Homo sapiens: one gene and its partner. The protein of the gene in region 1 purifies or fractionates together with the protein of each later gene. This does not show direct contact. Each region holds a gene or a part of one and is shown on either strand. Other genes may lie near its edges.

Evidence for each region.
Region 2: the proteins of MACROD1 (region 1) and PARP2 purify together in Homo sapiens (affinity purification with mass spectrometry; 2 studies listed by BioGRID and IntAct, with this or other methods). This does not show direct contact.

Annotation. Positions count from the first base shown.
Region 1 is NC_000011.10:63,997,857-64,002,198, forward strand, and holds the end of MACROD1 (ADP-ribose glycohydrolase MACROD1), read right to left. Parts: intron 2,488-4,342; coding exon 2,371-2,487; intron 1,908-2,370; coding exon 1,786-1,907; intron 1,705-1,785; coding exon 1,674-1,704; intron 1,549-1,673; coding exon 1,475-1,548; intron 1,181-1,474; coding exon 1,099-1,180; intron 1,017-1,098; coding exon 1,012-1,016; 3' UTR 982-1,011; intron 832-981; coding exon of another isoform or gene 800-831; 3' UTR 702-799; downstream 1-701. UniProt on the Homo sapiens protein: Removes ADP-ribose from aspartate and glutamate residues in proteins bearing a single ADP-ribose moiety. Inactive towards proteins bearing poly-ADP-ribose.
Region 2 is NC_000014.9:20,346,556-20,353,841, forward strand, and holds part of PARP2 (poly [ADP-ribose] polymerase 2), read left to right. Parts: intron 1-307; coding exon 308-358; intron 359-3,970; coding exon 3,971-4,067; intron 4,068-4,491; coding exon 4,492-4,567; intron 4,568-5,689; coding exon 5,690-5,792; intron 5,793-7,286. UniProt on the Homo sapiens protein: Poly-ADP-ribosyltransferase that mediates poly-ADP-ribosylation of proteins and plays a key role in DNA repair.

The DNA of each region.
Region 1 (4,342 bases):
GCTTCGTTGGGTTCTGCTTCCTTCCCTTCTTAGCTGGCTCAGGGGCTTCTATGGGATCCTGGAAGTTCCTTAGGGACTTGCCCAGGGTCCCAGGGCCACCCACACTTCATCTGCTCCCTCATAGGCCCCACCTCCACGTCCCGGCTGGGCCCCAGACCCCAGCTTCCTGCCCTCCACCGGGAGTCTGCATGGTTGGGAGTCCTGGGTGGAGGGGCCTTTGTGAGGCTGGACCCGGCTCAGGGCAGGTGGAGGAGCTGGGCCTCCCACAGGGTGCCCGGGCAGTGCCATCCTGGTGGGGGAGGGCAGCCTTCAAACGTGTGGGGTCTACAGTCCTCAGGTCTAGGCAGGGCTGCCGGTTCTCCACCTCCCCATCCGCCCCAGGCCCCCTGCCTGTGCCTGCCTTGCACCCCCTCTGCTTGGGCCACGGTGTCTCTGCATTGCCTGCCTTTTTGCCTTCACCTCTTTTCTTCCCCGCCCCCTGCACATTCGGGGTCTCAGCCCCCAGGCTGTGAGCTCCTTGGGGGCAGGCCCTCAATAAATGTGAACTGCTGCTGCCGCCTCTGCCGTCCGCCTGTGCCTCTGCCCGCCTGGCTCACCGAGAGCTCTTGCCAGCCCCTTTCAGTGAAAGCATCTGGCCAGGGGCTCCATCCAACACCTGGGCCGCCTTCCTTCCCCCCAGTCAGAGCTCAGACAGTAGGAGCTGCCACAACGAGATCTTTATTAGGCTCCTCGGGGGCGGGGCGCGGAGGGAAAGAAGGGGTGGCCAGGCCCAGGCCAGGCTGCAGGCTTTGGCGACCTCTCAGAGCTGGGAGCGGGGTCCCGAAGGCGGGTCTGAGGGCAGAGCAGAGTCAGAGGTGTCTATGGGCGTCCCCGACCTCCCAGGCTGCCCCGTGGTTTCCCGCCCTGCTTGGGGGTGAGCGGGGGTTAGTGGGCGGGTTAGTCTAGGGCCGGGGCCGCCGCACGGGGCGAGGCCCTGCTTACCAGTCCCGGTCAGGGTGGGCTGCGGGAGCCTCAGGCTGGAAGGCAGAGGACAGTGAGAGCCCGCCCCCAGGGTGGACCGGGGCAGGGGCGGGCCGTGGGGCGGCGCGGGGCACGTACCCACGGGGAAGTAGTGGGGGAGCCGGCTCCGGTAGATGTCCTCGTCCTTCTCGAGGAACACGCAGATGATCAGCCGGTCCACCTGCGCCAGGGGCTGCTCAGCCTGGGCCGAGCTGCCACGCCTGGCCCCAGGATCCTGTGACTGCCTGCCCTGGTGCAGGCTTTCACCTGCCTGGCCCTGCGCCCTTCACGGAGGCTCACGGCTGTGTGCCATCACCCCCATCTCGCCACCGCCAGGCGCCCTTGCGCAGGAGAAACAGGGAAGGAAGGGGCGGGCCTGGCCCTGCGCTCTGCACCCTGACTCCCTGGGCGATGATGGGGGCTGGTCACTCTGGCCGGGATGCGGACCCCACCCTCGCCCGGGCCCAGGACTCACCTTGTCCTTGTGCTGCTCCAGCCACTCTCGCAGCGTGGCCAGCACGATCTCGGCGGCCGCCTCACAGGGGTAGCCTGAGGCGGGTGGGGCGGGAGTGAGTCCTAGGCTCTGGCCCCGCCCACTCCCCTGTCCGCCCCGGCCCCTCCCGGCGTCTGGGTCCACCGCCCACTCCTGGTCCTTGCCTTTCTTCCAGACTCACCAAACACGCCGGTGGAGATGCAGGGGAACGCCTGGGCGGGGAGGGGTGAGAGGGGGTTGGAACATTGTCACTGCGCCCCGCCTCCCGCCCTCCCCCGCGGGCCGTCCCTCACCACCGAGCGGAGCCGGTGCTCCAGCAGCAGGTCCAGACTGCTCAGGTAGCAGCTGCGGAGCTCGGCAGCCTGACTGGCGCTGGGCTCCCCGTAGGCGATGGGCCCCACTGTGTGGATGACGTCTACGGGGGGCGACGGGGTCAGACCGGCGGGGGTCTACGCGGTCCTCAGCTCCCTCGCTTCCCCCTGCCGGCCTGGGCAGAAGGGGGCAGGAAACACCTTTCCCCCCAAGCGCTGAGCCTCCTCCGCGAAGGCCCCCACCCCTGTGGGCCCCCTCGAGCCCGAATCCGCACGCGCACAGAGCCCCGCGCCCCCTCCCCACATCTGTATGGGCCCGGCTGAGACCCGAGCGCGAGTGTGGGCGCGAAGGCGTTGCCCCCCAGCTCCATCCTCAGCCTCCACGCACGGTCTCCCCCATGTGCTTCCTGGGGTGTGCGGGGTGGGGGCCGGGTCTTGGCCCTTAAGGTTAAGAAGGGCCCCCTGAGGAGTTCCCCAGCACTCCTGTGGGGGCCGCACCCCTGATGTCCCAGTGACACACGGGCGCCCTGTCTGCGCCCCACAGCTGGGGGCGCGTCGGGGACTCACACTTGGCCGGGAGCCGATAGCCGCCGGTGATCTTGGCCTTGCCAGTCTTACAGCTCTGCAGGGTCCGGCACTCGTCGGTAAGCAGGGGGCCGGCGGCCCGATGAATGCAGCCGTCCACTGCGGGAAGGGCGGGCGCGACTGAGCTGGCCTGGCAAGGCTGCGGCCCCGGGGTGAGCACCCTCAGTCCCGAGAAGCCCCTCGGCGATGCGAGGACCCATGCGGAGCCGCGCCCCAACCCCGTGGCCTCCGGCCGCGGCCGCTGCCCCCACCCCCGCCCGGAATGTTTCACATCTGGGGAAACCGAGGCGCAGAGCGGGACGGCCCTGGGCCTGGCGGGAAGTCGCGCAAGGAGGCCGGCAGGGGGCGCACCCGGCCCACCCTGTCCCTTCCAGGCCGCGCCGCCAGGGCCCAGGCAGGGCGGCTCCGGGAGGCGGGGGCCGCCGGGACAGGAACCGCCGCCCGAGCCGGGGTGACGGGGAAGCTTCCTCCCCGACGCCCCTCCCTAGCCCTGTCCCGGGCGCGCTGCAGGGCCCGCGACCAGTCGCTGCCTCCGCCCGGGCCTCAGCGTCGGTGCGATCCCAAGGCCCACCTCCCCAGGCGGCGCCCCATCACGGGGCGGCGGCAAACCCTAGGACCCATTTTGCGGATGAGGAAACCGAGGCCACCTTGTTACAGGGTGATCAGATCTGTAGCTGGAGTCTGGGTCTTCCAGCCGCGCGGGGAGGTGAGCCCGACGCCCGGGCCCGAGTCTCCTGGCGCGCAAACCCCAGCTGGTTAATGAACCGCCTCGTTAGCGCATCCAGCTTAATTACGGCCCCGCATGGGCTTGTTTATCCGAGGGCGGCTGCAGGGCCTCGCGAGCGACCCTGGGGACCCGGGCGCAGATAAACAACCGGGGCGCAGCGGGAGGCATGGAGGAAACGCTCCAGCAGCCCAACCTCGCCAGGGCACCGCGCAGGAGAGGCGCGGCCTCAGGCAGGCCTGGGTCCAGCCCGGGCTCACCCCTCATCGGCTGTGAGATCCTGCCCCTTCCCCTCTCTGGCGTCCACCCTCTTATCTGGAATACCGGGACAGCGACCCTCCCACAGAGGAAAACGCCGCGTGCTGGCCGGGAGGACAGGGCCCATCTTTGGCAGCTCTGATCGCCCACGCCAGGAGCTCCTCAGGCACCAGCTGCCTGGTGCTCACAGGCGGGCATCAAGAGAGGACCATCATTCCCCATTTTACAGATGGACAAACCAAGGCCACCTTCTCCTTCATCACCTCAGTCTCGGCACAGTTCCAGGGATGCCAGGTAGCTCACACCCCTTTCTTTTGCTGTTTGATCTCGTGCCCTGGGGGCACAATTAAACCTCATTCTGCAACTTTACTCAGAGCTGGCACCAGGCAATTTCCCAGAGCGTCCCAGGGATGGGTGGGCAGAGAGGTTAGGGGAACGCTGAGAACGGCTCAGGCCTGGATCCCTTCCACCTGCTCCTCTCCTCTGCAGGGAGAAAGGCAGCTGTAGCCCAGGGCGAGGCTGAGATGGAGCAAGAAGGCAGGGCCCAGAGCGGGCGTCCAGGCTGGAGCTCCCAGTGCTGGGAAGTGAGTGTTCCGAATGGGGTGCCGTGGCTGGGCTGTGGAGCTGGGCAACGTGAGTTCACATCCTGGCTCTGCCAGCCACAGATGTGTGACCCCTCACATATCATTTAACCTCTCTGGGTCTCAGTTGCTCCATCTGGAAAATGGGATAATAGCACCCACCTCAGAGCTCATTGGGCTGTTGGAAGGATTGAGTTAAACTAACTTTGTAATGTGCTTAAGGCAGTGCTTGGCAAGAATGGAGGTCATGAGTGTATCCTGTTATTAACAACAGTGTGACAGTGTGGGCATGTTCGGGTATGTGTACATCAGTGTGATGGGAGGTGGGTGCACACAGGGTGTTCACAGTGTGTGGGGGTGAGCCCAGGGATCTGTCTGAGCTGGCTCTCCT
Region 2 (7,286 bases), on another chromosome or scaffold:
ATGCCTGACCTCAAGTGATCTGCCCACCTTAGCCTCCCGAAATGCTGGGATTGCAGGCATGAGCCACCATGCGCAGCCTAACTCAGAATCTTTTGTATAGTTAAAAAAAAGGAAGCATGTTTTCATTTATAGTAAGGTTACACCCAGGTTACTGGTAGAACATAGGTTTGCAATTCTTTCCTTGGGAGATGAATGTTGATGTTGCTGTAGAATGATGACTTGAGCCATAAGAAAATTTAGAGCCTCATTTAGGATGTCAGGGCTGAACCTATACTAATGTTGATTTTTTCTCTCTCTCCCTTTCTAGGCTCATGTGTATTGTGAAGGAAATGATGTCTATGATGTCATGCTAAATCAGGTAAGAGGCAAGAAGAGGTGGCACCATTATATTTATGAGACCATCTTCTTGATAATTATTGATGATAGCATCACAGTGTTCAGATCTTTAAAGTCCCTTTTTTTTTTTTTTTTAAATTTTGTTTTTTCTTTTTGAAATGGAGTCTCACTTCATCTCTCAGGCTGGAATACAGTGGCACAATCTCGGCTTACTGTAACCTCTGCCTCCCAGGTTCAAGCAATTCTCCTGCCTCAGCCTCCCAAGTAGCTGGGGTTACAGGCGTGCACCACCACTCCCAGCTAATTTTTTGTATTTTTAGTAGAGACAAGGTTTCGCCACGTTAGCCAGGGTCTGGTCTCGAACTCGTGACTTCAAGTGATCCACCCACCTCAGCCTCCCAAAATGCTGGGATTACCAGGTGTAAGCCACCACGCCTTGCCTAAAGTCCTTCATATGTGTGTGTGTATATATATATATATATATATATATATATATATATATATATATTTTTTTTTTTTTTTTTTTTTTTTTTTTTTTTTTTGAGACAGAGTCTTGCTCTGTCACCCAGGCTGGAATGCAGTGGTGCAATCTCGGCTCACTGCAATCTCTGCCTCCTGGGTTCAAGCAATTCTCCAGCCTCAGCCTCCCAAGTAGCTGGGACTACAGGTGCAGTGTCTGGCTAATTTTTTGGTATTTTTAGTAGAGATGGGGTTTCACCATGTTGGCCAGGCTGGTCTTGAACCCCTGACCTCAGGTGATCCACCCACCTCACCCTCCCAAAGTGTTGGTATTACAGGCATGAGCCACTGCGCCCGGCAAGTCCTTTATATTAATATTAGCCATTAGTGGTTAAACACCTGAGTACTCAGCCCTAGCACACTCTTATCAGATAGCAGAGTCCTCTGTGAGAAGATTTTTTTTTGCAAATTTCATATCATTTATTGAAATTGTTAACTCTCTGTTCATATCCTTTTGCACATTTTTTTTTTTTTTTTAAACAGACAGGATCTTGTTCTGTCACCCAGGCTGGAGTGCAGTTTGTACAGTCATAGCCCACTGCAACCTTGAACTTCTGGGCTCCAGCAATCCTCCCACCTAAGCTTCCTGAGTAGCTCGGACTTCAGGCGCATGCCACAAAGCCTGACTAATTTTTAAATTTTTTATGGAGATGAGAATCTCGCTATGTTGGATAGGTGGTCTTGAATTCTTGGCCTCAAATGATCCTCCTGCCTTGTCCTCATGAGGCACTGGGATTACAGGGATGAGCCACTGGGACAAGCTGTTTTGCACATTTTCTAAAGTTATTGGTCCTTTTCTTACTGGTTTCGAGGAACTTTATATAATATGGAGAATAGCCTTTTGTCTGTAATACAAACCACTTGTGTTTTCCAGATTTGTCATTTACCTTTTGGTTTTCCTTATAGTACACTTTTTGCCCATATTGAAGTTTTAAATTTTTTCTGTAGTTAAATTTATTAATTTTTCCTTTTTAAAAAATTTTGGGTTTTTTTTTTTTTAATTTTAGAGACAGTGTCTTGCTATGTTGCTCAGGCTGGCCTTGAACTTGTGACCTCGTGTGATCCTCCAACCTCAGCCTCCCAAGTAGCTGGGACTACAGGCATCTGCCCCCAAGCTCAGCTTTCTTTTTAATCAACCTTTTTCTCTTGTTTACCTTTGTGGTTTTGAGTAGATAATACATTTGCCTCATTAATATATTTCCTGGATATGACTTCATGTTTGAATTTATTGATCCAACATATATAATTTTAACAACCAATTAGTATTTATTTCTTACTATTTCTTCTACTTAAAATACCACGAGCAGATAGAAAATACCTTAAGGTTAGCCAGGTGCAGTGGCTCACGCCTGTAATCCCAGCACTTTGGGAGGCTGAGGCGGGCGGATCACCTGAGGTCGGGAGTTCAAGACCAGCCTGACCAATGTGGAGAAATCCCATCTCTACTAAAAATACAAAATTAGCCAGGTGTGGTGGCATATGACTGTAATCCCAGCTACTCGGGAGGTTGAGGCACGAGAATTGCTTGAACCTGGGAGACGGAGTTTGTGGTGAGCCGAGATCGTACCATTGTACTCCAGCCCTGGGCAACAAGAGCAAAACTCCTTCTCAAAAAAAAAAAGAAAAGAAGGAAAATACCTTAAGGCAGCCAGGTGTGGTGGCTCATGCCTGTCATCCTAGCACTTTCGGAGGCCAAGGCTGGAGAATCACTTCAGGTGTGAGTTCAAGATCAGCCTGGGCAACATGGTGAAACCTTGTCTCTACAAAAAAATACAAAAACACCGGGCATGGGCCAGCTACTTTGGAGGCTGAGGTGGGAGGATTGCTTGAGCCTGGGAGGTTGAGGCTACAGTGAGCTGTGATTGAGCCATTGCACTCCAGCCTGGGTGACAGAGGGAGACCCTATCTCAAAAAAATAAAAAATAAAAACCATAAAAACATTTACAAAAAAATTTTTTAAAGGAAAAGAAAATATCAAGCTGGGCATGGTGGCTTATGCCTAAAATCCCAGCACTTTGGGAGGCCAAGGCGGGCAGATCACTTGAGTTAGGGGTTCAAGACCAGCCTTGCCAACATGTTGAAACTCCATGTCTACTAAAAATACAAAAAAAAATTAGTCTGGCATGGTGGCGTGTGCCTGTAATCCCAGCTACTAGGGAGGCTGAGGCACAAGAAATTGCTTGAACCTAGGACACAGAGGTGGCAATGAGCGGAGGTTGCACCACTGCACTCCAGCCTGGGCGACAGAGCAAGACTCTGTCTCAAAAAAAGAAAATATCTTAGGCTCCTTTTTGTTCTAACATCTAATGACCTTTTTTTTTTCACCAGTGGGCTAAGGTCGTACAATGGCTTTAGAATGTGAGCAAGCAGGAGATAGAGGTAGGAAGGGGCAGCATGCTTAACAAAAAAGAATGCCTCCATATCCAGGGCTCGGCCATACAACACCAGCTGCTATGCCTTATCATGGACTTCTCTCTCTTCACTCTGAGTGATTTACTTACAGATACCTCTTTTTAGATACTGGCCATATTCTCTCTCAGTATCTCCAAGTCAGGTCAGGTTAGGTATGGGACGGATGTGGCAGTGGTTTTGCGTATCCCTTGTCCCCTCCCATTATTGCCCTGCTCTCAGCTCATTGTCAAATTTCTGCAGCTGACAAACAAAAGCTGTGAGTAGAACTGTCAAGGAGTAAGTCATTTAACAGTTGAGCATAACAGGTTTAGACCTTTGGAGCATCCAAATTGTTTTCATTTGGGAAATAATTATTGGGAGTGGATTGGGAGCTGGAAAACACATATAGCTTAGAAAATATCTAAATAGGGAGCTGAGGCAGGAAAAAACTGGAGGAGCCATTCAATGTAGGATATTTGAGGTTGGATAGAGGGTTTTAGGAAGCTTCTAGGCTCCCACTTTAATTCCTAAGAATCCAAAGTTTAATGTATAAGCCCTATTTCTTCTTTATATCTTTAATCTTACAGGAATCTAATTTTCTTGCCTGATGCTATCCTTTTCCTTATGGAAATAACTGGCACCTGTGACGAAGGATGAGTCATTGGTTTATGTGATTTCCATTTGCAAAACTCCTTTTTTTTGTTTTTGTTTTCACTCAACATAGACCAATCTCCAGTTCAACAACAACAAGTACTATCTGATTCAGCTATTAGAAGATGATGCCCAGAGGAACTTCAGTGTTTGGATGAGATGGGGCCGAGGTAATGATTTTTATTGAGATTTTATGAGTTGGCATTCAGAAAGTCAGAAGCAGCTTAGTGGGTGGCCAAAGGATTCTCTGGGTTTAAATTGGGTCAGTAGAGGCTCTGAAGTCTGGGAGAGCCTTAGGAATCAAGTTGAGCATCTTGAAATTGGGGAATGGCAGGCATCCTCCTTAGAGTTCCCACTGGAAAAACTAAGAGCAGCCCATTGAGTCTGAAAACTCTTCTATAGTTGAACTGCTAGTAGTGCTCATAGACTATGGCAGTTAGCAAGTAACTTGTATCAACATGATTAGTTCCCTAAATCCTTTCACCTTTCCCTTCTCCCTTTCCTGCCTGTTTGTCAGATGTTAAGCAGAGAGATCTTGGAGAGCTGGCCTGTTACTCTTAGGGAACTATCTTATGTGTGGCATTTCCTTTGCAGTTGGGAAAATGGGACAGCACAGCCTGGTGGCTTGTTCAGGCAATCTCAACAAGGCCAAGGAAATCTTTCAGAAGAAGTGAGTGCTGAAAAGTGACTACAAAAAAATATACCCTCCTCTTCTTAGATGTATATTCTCTAAAAAATTTTTTTTTAGACAGTTTCACTCTTGTTGCCCAGGCTGGAGTGCAATGGCATGATCTGAGCTCACTGCAACCTCCACCTCCTGGGTTTAAGTGATTCTCCTGCCTCAGCCTCCCTAGTAGCTGGGATTACAGGCGCCCACCACCACGCCCAGCTAATTTTTGTATTTTTAATAGAGATGGGGTTTCGCCATGTTGGCCAGGCTGGTCTCGAACCCCTGACCTCAGGTGATCCGCCTGCCTCAGCCTCCCAAAGTGCGGGATTACAGGCGTGAGCCACCGTGCCCTGCCTTCTCTAAGAATTTTATAAGTGTGTGGCTTATAAAAAACTTTTCGTTTTATAGGTGTGATTTGGCCTAAATGTTAATGTCTTTTCACCCTGACATTCTGTGGTTGAAACACCAAACTGCATCCTTAGTGATTAAATCAAACTAATACCTTGAAAGTCACTAAAAACAGAAGAATCTAATATATTTAACACATGACTGACAAATTTAGGAAATTTGGGATAAGTGGAGACTATCCTGGGATAGATAATATTCAACTAGGGGCTGAGCACGGTGATGCCTGTAATCCCAGCACTTTGGGAGGTTGAGGCAGGAGGATTGCTTGAAGCTAGGAGTTTGAGACCAGCCTGGGCAACAAAGCGAGACCCCTGACTCTCCCCCAAAAAAAAGGAAAGAAAAAAAGAGAATATTCAGTTAGAATTTTTAAAACTTTATGATATAGATGAAGAACTTTCTGGAGAATTGGAGAACATGTTTCTTTCAGGGAAAGAGATTAGATGGATATCTTTTGTTTGAAATCTCAATGGCTTTTGTGGTGTTTGGGAAGGACAAGCATTGTTTTTCCCATTTTTTAAATTCCATTTGTCTCCAGAGCTTTTTTGTCCATTTAGTGTCCTCATTTAGAATTAGACTAATTTTGATTTATGGAAAGTTGATGTGTAAAGGAGCTCAGTGCTGGAAAATAAATTCTTTGGAGATTTTCTGTCTTGTAAGTCCATCTTCATAGTAGACCTTTATTTGTAAAGTTTTCTTACACCTTGGACTCTACAGATTCCTTGACAAAACGAAAAACAATTGGGAAGATCGAGAAAAGTTTGAGAAGGTGCCTGGAAAATATGATATGCTACAGATGGACTATGCCACCAATACTCAGGTAACTCTCACTATACTTTTCGAAAGAAACACATCTTCTTTTTTTATTTTATTTTTTAGAGGCAAAACTGTGCTCTGTTGCCCAGGCTGGGTGGCACAATCATGGCTCACTGCAGCCTCAAGATCCTCAGGCTCAAGTGATCCTCCCACCTCAGCCTCCTCAGTATCAGGAACTACAGGCACGTGCCACTCTGCCCAGCTGATTTTTTTTCTTTTTTTTTTGTAAAGATGAGGTTTCACTATGTTGCCCAGGCTGGTCTCGAATTCCTGGGCTCAAGCAGTCCTCTTGTCTTGGCCTCCCAAAGTCCTGAGATTACAAGCATGAGGCACCACACCTACTCCTGTTTCTTCTTACTCAGGGTAAAGCAGAATAGCTTAGATCATTCCTGGACTGGGACAGGCCAGGATATCTTGAATCCTTTCTACTTCTCACCTCAGGGGTGCTCTCACTGATCTTTGTAATCCCAAAGGGACAGTAAGAATGAGGATAGAATGTGCCTTTCTAGTCTTGGCTCTGTTATTTACTAAGGTTCTTTTTTTTTTTTTTGAGCTGGAGTTTGATTCTTGTTGCCCAGGTTGGAGTGCAATGGCTCAGTCTCAGCTCGCTGCAACCTCCAGCTCCCGGGTTCAAGCGATTCTTCTGCCTCAGCCTCTCAGGTAGCTGGGATTACAGGTGCCCGCCACTATGCCCAGCTAATTTTTTTTGTATTTTTAGTAGAGACAGGGTTTCATCATGTTGGCCAGTCTGGTCTTGAACTCGTGACCTTGGGTGATCTACCCGCCTCAGCTTCCCAAAGTGCTGGGATTACAGGCGTGAGCCATCACGCCCGGCCTACTAAGTTTCTTATAAAATCTTAGGCCCTATTTCCAGACGTTTATTGTTTTTTTCGTTTTTTTGTTTTTGTTTTTTTTTGATACGGAGTCTCGCTCTGTCGCCCAGGCTGGAGTGCAGTGGCGCGATCTCGGCTCACTGCACGCTCCGCCTCTGGGTTCACGCCATTCTCCTGCCTCAGCCTCCGGAGTAGCTGGGACTACAGGCGCCCGCCACCACGCCCGGCTAATTTTTTTTTGTATTTTTAGTAGAGACGGGGTTTCACCATGTTAGCCAGGATGGTCTCGATCTCCTGACATCATGATCCGCCCGTCTTGGCCTCCCAAAGTGCTGGGATTACAAGCGTGAGCCACTGCGGCTGGCACCAGAAGTTTATTGTTATGGACCAAGAGAGGAGTGATAAAAAATCAAACTGATTAAACAATTAACATTTAAATTTGTTTTCACTTCTGGATATATACCACCATAAAAAATTTAATTTAGATAAACTGAGGTATACCAGGATGCTGAAACTGTCCGGAAACAGTCACATATCCAAAAAAATGGAGAAGTTTTAGTCTTTTTTAAGATGGGAAGATCTGAGACATAATAGCTGTCTTTACACACTGACGTCATGAGGAAAGCCTTTTTTTTCTAGACTTATTCTGAGTTGTAAAATGTGGG